Homo sapiens: one gene and its partner. The protein of the gene in region 2 purifies or fractionates together with the protein of the main gene of each other region. This does not show direct contact. Each region holds a gene or a part of one and is shown on either strand. Other genes may lie near its edges. The genes, in order: KCTD7 and CAPN15.

Evidence for each region.
Region 1: the proteins of CAPN15 (region 2) and KCTD7 purify together in Homo sapiens (affinity purification with western blotting, with the first as the bait; one study listed by BioGRID). This does not show direct contact.

The regions. Positions count from the first base shown.
Region 1 is NC_000007.14:66,641,130-66,643,772, reverse strand, and holds the end of KCTD7 (BTB/POZ domain-containing protein KCTD7), read right to left. Parts: 3' UTR 726-2,643; downstream 1-725. UniProt on the Homo sapiens protein: May be involved in the control of excitability of cortical neurons.
Region 2 is NC_000016.10:547,903-551,711, reverse strand, and holds part of CAPN15 (calpain-15), read right to left. Parts: coding exon 3,425-3,809; intron 2,720-3,424; coding exon 2,511-2,719; intron 2,425-2,510; coding exon 2,241-2,424; intron 2,098-2,240; coding exon 1,874-2,097; intron 411-1,873; coding exon 285-410; intron 201-284; coding exon 48-200; intron 1-47.

The DNA of each region.
Region 1 (2,643 bases), on a different chromosome or scaffold from region 2:
TGTATTATTAGTGTACTATAACTATGTGACTGTACTCAGTAATTAGTCAGGGAATACATTTGGCACAGATGATACAGTGCTTTTGTTTAAAAGCCAGAATAATCAGAGGTTTAAGGGAAGCAGTTGGAGGGTATGAAGCTACTCAGAGCCTCAGAACTCACCTTTCTGCGTTAATCCATGATGTGACTCCAGGGGGCATCTTGATGAGGACACTCATTAGCCAGGAAGGTGTCAAGCTCTGCTTTCAAAGGAAGGGCAACTTACGTCCATTTTTCTTAAGGAAGGGTCTTAACCACTGAGGCTTACATAAATTTAGAGCTACTTATTTCCCCCATTGAAAAGGAAGTGGTAATATGACAGGAGGAATTTATTTTAGAACTACCTGACATGGTTGTGAGCCACACACGTGACTGCACCTGCAGTCTCTTCTTTCCTTGGAGAACTCCCAAAAGAAGAGGACAGAGATTTTGCCTAGGCTGGGGTGGGCACATGCCTACATGAAACAGGGACAAGTCTAGAGTAACTCTAGAAGGGTCCTCAAGAGGCCCACCTCCCTTTCAGGGCAGAAATTCAGCTGCTGGTCTCAGGGAAAAGCCTGTCTTGTTGTGTGGGGCATCCCCAAACACACCACATTTTAAGCAGAAATAAAAAATATTTGCTGGCAAAGTGGGGGTCAGAGAAGAGATGAGAGCACATCTCTAAAAAAGAAAGGCACAGCACCCAGGTTCTAGTTCTTGACTTTAATGCCCTTGGAGTGTACTGAGGCTCAATACACCAAAGCACTCACAGACAGGTACATGAACTCACACAGGAAGTGTTATAGTGTGTACATAAACCCAACACCATACAGAAGGAAGACGACGGACCCAGGTGACCTCCCACACTCGAGGTGACTGCCTGTTCCCATACTCACTGTTTGTTCCCACCTCCCTCAACCCCTGCCAACCCCCATCCTTCCCCACTCAGTATGTATATACACAGATATGATTCTTTCAGAATTCCAAAAAGTGCCTCTCCCACCCCAGTTCCCAACACTACAGCTTTGGATGAAAAAAGCCTCTCTCTTTTAAGGATCATGAGACAGGTACCACCTTCACGCAAGAGCCCCAGCAAAATAGTACCCAAGAAAGCTTAATAATGTATATTGGAATCAAATATGGATAGAACATATGCAGAAGGACAATATTTGAAATATTACTAGGATCAAAACGCTCAGCATCAGTAGTTTTTGTTTTGTTATTGCTGTTTGCTTTAACCTGTTCAAGAGCTGGTTTAGACCAAGACCACACATGGATGCTCACACCGCCTGTGTCTTATAAATGTCACTTCCTATTCCTCCAGCAAGCAGCCCAGAACAGGAAGATTATATCACCTGATAAGCCTTAGGCACAAGGCTCAGACAGCTCCCAGAATATCCTAAGCCCCAGGAAAGAAGAACAGAAACTTCCAGAGTACAGCTGACTGCTTTCTGCATGGTAAGCACTGGGCAGCCTGGTGAACAAGGCAGAGGTAAAATAAGGAAGGTGATGATTCCTTCCATTTATTTAGAGTGTTACGCTAAGAATTCCTCTCCTGGAGTGGGATGCATTTCAGTGTGGTTTTGCTTCAGTCTTTTTTTGTTGCTATAACATTAGCTTTTTTATTTTTAAGGAATTTTGTTATGGCGAGCATTGCACCATTGGTCCCATCTCCTGAAACTTTCACTTTGCTTTGACTCACTGATAACTACTGGCCCGTCTCAAGGCAAGATGAATCCAGTCCCTTGTCAAGTGAGAGGGATTTACTGACATTATGCACAACAATTCTATAAAGATGCACTTCCTTATGATCAGGGAGAAGCTTTCATCCTTTGGAGCCTTCCTTCCAGACCCAACCCTTCTTCTGTTCTGGGCCTGGCCATTTAGAGTTGAAAAGGGATCAAATGGGGAAAAGTCACTTCCACAGGGATAACCCCTTTATCTGGAGGCCGTTACCACAATCCACCACATCTAATTGCACTTTTCAGCCTGGCCTTGGTTTCTCATTAGAGAATGGCGAAACTAGGCCACTGAATTCCTTCACTCCATTTAGAAAGAGCTCTCAGCTTGCTGCCCAGTGTCACCTCTCTGCCTGTTCTACTGGCCCAGAGCCTTGTGTCCTACAGTGGCACAGAATACATTACTGTGAGGATCACAAAGGGAGTCAGAGAAACAGGGATTTCTCCAGCGAGAGAGAGGAACGGTGTTCTTACCCAGCATCCCTGTAATCCTAAGCAAGCCTTCAGGACCTGTTTTTGAGCAAACTTGCATTTGAGCAAACAAGTCTCTCAATGGCTTGCATGTATGGACTCTAAATAACCAAGCCCTGCCATGCTCCATGGGAGAAGGGGGAAGCAGAAGGGGTCAAGGCCACATTACTGAAAGCAATGGGCTTAATGAACTGCTCTCTGTTCACACAGACTTTTTCAATAGTCTGCCTCTCTGTCAAAAAATGAACACATATTAGGCAGTAGGTAACACCAATCAGAAGAACCAAAATGAAAGCCTTTTCTCTTAGAACAATACAAGAGCCATGTTTTGGGGCTAACCTCCAAGCAGGGACATCAGCTCCAGAAAAGAGACTATCCCTTTGTGTACGAGAACAATAGAGAGAGCGCATATCTCA
Region 2 (3,809 bases):
CCTAGGAGGGCGGGGGCGGCGTGCACACCGCCCCACGGTGCCGATACCTGACAAAGTCGCCGTACTCCATCCAGAAGACACCCTCACTGCTGCCGTGCGGCATGAGCTCGCCACGCAGGTGCCCCGGCCAGTGTGGCCACTCGTCGGACCAGCTGCCGTTCCAGGAGAAACGGCCCCACGGGTTTCGGAGCCGCAGAAGCCTGCAGACCACAGGGGTGAGGATCTGAACCACACTGCCCGAGTCTCACCGGCACCCCACCCACCCTCAGCCAGGCCGGCCCTACCTGGTGCCCTGGACATCTCGGACATCCAGGATGGAGTAGGCATGCCGGGGGCGCAGGCCCAGGCTCTCGTAGGCCGAATCGTCCACCTTCATGTTGCCCCCGCCACAGGAGGCACCCATGAGGAACCTGTGTGGCAGAGCGGCCCTCACCGACCGGGACCCTCACCGACAGGGGACCCTCACCGACCGGGGACCCTCACTGACCGGGACCCTCACCGACTGGGGACCCTCACCGACCGGGGCCCTCACCGACCGGGACCCTCACCGACGGGGCGCCCTCACCGACCGGGGCCCTCACCAACAGGGGCCCTCACCGACCGGGGACCCTCACCGACCGGGGCCCTCACCGACCGGGGACCTCACCGACCGGGGACCCTCACCGACCGGGGCCCTCACCGACCGGGGCCCTCACCGACAGGGGACCCTCACCGACCGGGACCCTCACCAACAGGGGACCCTCACCGACCGGGGCCCTCACAGACAGGGGACCCTCACCGAAAGGGGACCCTCACTGACCGGGACCCTCACCGACCAGGGACCTCACCGACAGGGGACCCTCACCGACCGGGACCCTCACCGACCGGGGCCATCACCGACGGGGCACCCTCACCGACCGGGGCCCTCACCGACCGGGACCCTCACCGACCGGGACCCTCACCGGCAGGGGACCCTCACCGACCGGGACCCTCACCGACGGGGACCCTCACCGACAGGGGACCCTCACCGACCGGGACCCTCACCGACTGGGGGCCCTCACCGACCGGGGACCCTCACCGACAGGGAACCCTCACTGACAGGGGGTCTCACTAACCAGGGGCATGGCTGAGTGGGGCCCTCACCGACTGGGGGCATGGCTGAGCGGGGCCCTCACTGACCGGGGCCTTGCTGACCAGTGCCCTCGCTGGCCGCGACCTTGCCACCAAGACAGGCAGGCGCAGCAGAGAAGGGCCCACTCCTGCCTGTAGGGACCACGTGAAGTGTTCAGGAGGGTCTGGACCAGCCCCCTCCACCATGCCTGAAGCGCACAGGGCCTGAGTCAGGGGTGGCAGGCCTGGGTCCCCTGGAGGCCTTGTGGGGCTGGCTCTGGGCTCTGTGGCTCCCGGGCGGGTGGGGGGTGGGCAGCAGCACTGCCCAGGGTCAGCTGAGAGGAGGGCTCCGGGAGCTTCAAGGTGCTCGCACCGGGGCACTCCGAGGAGGCCCCTGGGGGTCGAGGCACAGACCCGCTGACCAGAGTGTGGCCAAACTCGACACGCCGCTCACGCCTGCCCCGAGGCGGATGACGGCATCAGTCTCGCCCCACGGCCCAGGTCAAACTCGACACGCCGCTCACACCTGCTCCGGGGTGACGGCATCGGTCTCGCCCCACGGCCTGGCCAGGATGTGGCCTTCCTGGCATGAGAAGGCCAGCTCCAGCCCCGCCCAGGGAGGGGGAGGTGATTGGGGCTGTGGCCTGGCCACGCGGGGTCAGCCCACGCCAGGGGCACCTCGTGGAAGCAGAACTGGGTCAGGGGCCACCAGCCCCACATCTCCCACCGCTCCGCCTCGCCTCTCCTCCCAACGCGGCTGACCACGCAGTGCCCCTCCTCTTACCCAGCCTCCTTAGAACTCAGCATTTTGGCCCAGATGAGGTCAGTGTCAACGGGCTCCTCGCGGGGGTTAGTGGAGCTGAGCTGCAGCGCCAGGCTCTCACAGGGGGCGCCGGTGAGCGTGGCCAGGCCTTCGATGGCGCGGCCCGCCTGGAGCGCAAAGTAGGAGCCGTGCAGCTTGGCCAGCGCCTTCTCGATGAGGGCCACCCACAGCTGCTTCCGCTGCGCCTGCAGAGGGCCGGGTCAGAGGCCACCCCCGCCCGCCCCCCACACTACCCGCCCTGGGAGAAGAGGAAGCAGCCGGCCTTGTTTTCGGGGCTGGGGTCAGAGGCTGCCCCTGCCGCCCGTGCCCACCCTGCAGGCCGCCCCACCTGTGAGAAGAGGAGGCAGCCGGCCTCATCACAGGGCAGCATGTCGTCCACCAGCACCGTGGTCCACGTGCCGTCCTTGCACAGCCGCACCTGGTAGGCGCCCTCTGCACACAGGCTGCGCGTGACCATCACCCGCTCCACCAGGTCCGGCCGCTCCGCCAGCACCGCCAGGGCGCTCAGGAACCTGCGCAGAGCCTCAGGGTGACCTCGCGGGGACCGCGGCCGGTCGCCCGCCCACCCGCCCCACCCCGGCCTTGGAGAAGGCCTCACCAGCAGTTCCCCAGCAGCCCCTGCAGGATGTCTGAGGGCCGCAGTGTGTGGAACACAGACCACGTGGCCCTGTGGTCCCTGAAGACGGAGCAGTTGATCTCCTGGGGTCGCAGCCACTGCCTCACACGCTGCTGCACGCTGTCACCCGCGGGGAAGCCGACAGACTCGGGCCCGGGAGGGAAGCTGTCATCCACGAAGCTCACATTGTTCTGCAGAGACCACGGCCATGTGCTCAGGCTGGGCAGGGTGGCCTCGCTCCACCTGGCAGGGACAAGACCCCACCCAGGAGAGCGCCCAAAAGCACTGCCTGAGCCCCAAAGGGACGGGTGGAGCGTGGACAGCCACAGACCTGGCGCCGGCCCTGTGTCGAGGAAGCCCTCAGCCCTAGTGGAGAGGCCACCGGCTGGCGACAGGTGAGGAGCAGGGGACGTGTGGGCCCAGGGGGACAGCGCAGCCCCCAGTGGGTGGCAGCACGACTCTGGCCCTGGCCCTGCTGGGGAGGGTGCAGGCTGCGCCCCAGTTGACCCGTGGGTGATGCCATCCTGGACTCTAGAGGGCGGAGCACGGGTACATCCCGACCTCGCACTTCAGCGGGGTCTCCACGCTGCCCCTGGGAAGCCCTCGCCTCCTGCGGCACATCAGACGGGGCTCGGGGCCCTCCTGGCCACGGTGGAGGGTTGAGGGGGGTGAAGGTCGTGCATCTCGGTCACCAGCAAGGACCAAGGGTCAGGAGGCCAAGCTGGACCCCAGGGCCATTGGGAGCTTGGAGCCTCGGGGCGGAGGGTGCTGCCCTCCCCATCACGTCTTAGGCCTTGTGGGCTCCTCCCCAGCCCATCGCCAGAGCCCAAAGCCTAGGAAGGGGAGGGCGGGAGCAGGAGGCTCAGGAGCAGGAAGAGGGCGAGGGGGCGCCTCACCTCCCGGCAGAAGGCCACGATGTTCTCCCAGAGTGCCTTGGCCTCGCCCTCGTCTGTCTGCCGCCGCTGCTCCACGTGCATGCTCTCCCTGCGCCTCAGGGGCGCGGCCCCCCGCCGCTGGGCCACCAGGAGCTGAGGCGTGTGGCAGGCGGCGCAGTGCTTGGCCCGCAGTGCGTTGAGCAGGGTACAGGCAGGGCAGGCCCACTGGCCCGGGCGCTCGGGCAGGACGCGGGCGGCCTTCTGGGCCGAGGACACCCGTCCGCAGCTTCTGCCGCAGGGGCTGGGCTTGTCGGCCCCACAGTCGGGGCAGTGGGTGGGGGGCTCGCCATGCTCCTGGAAGCCGTGCAGTTTGGAGCAGCCGCAGGCCGAGCACCTGGGGGCCACT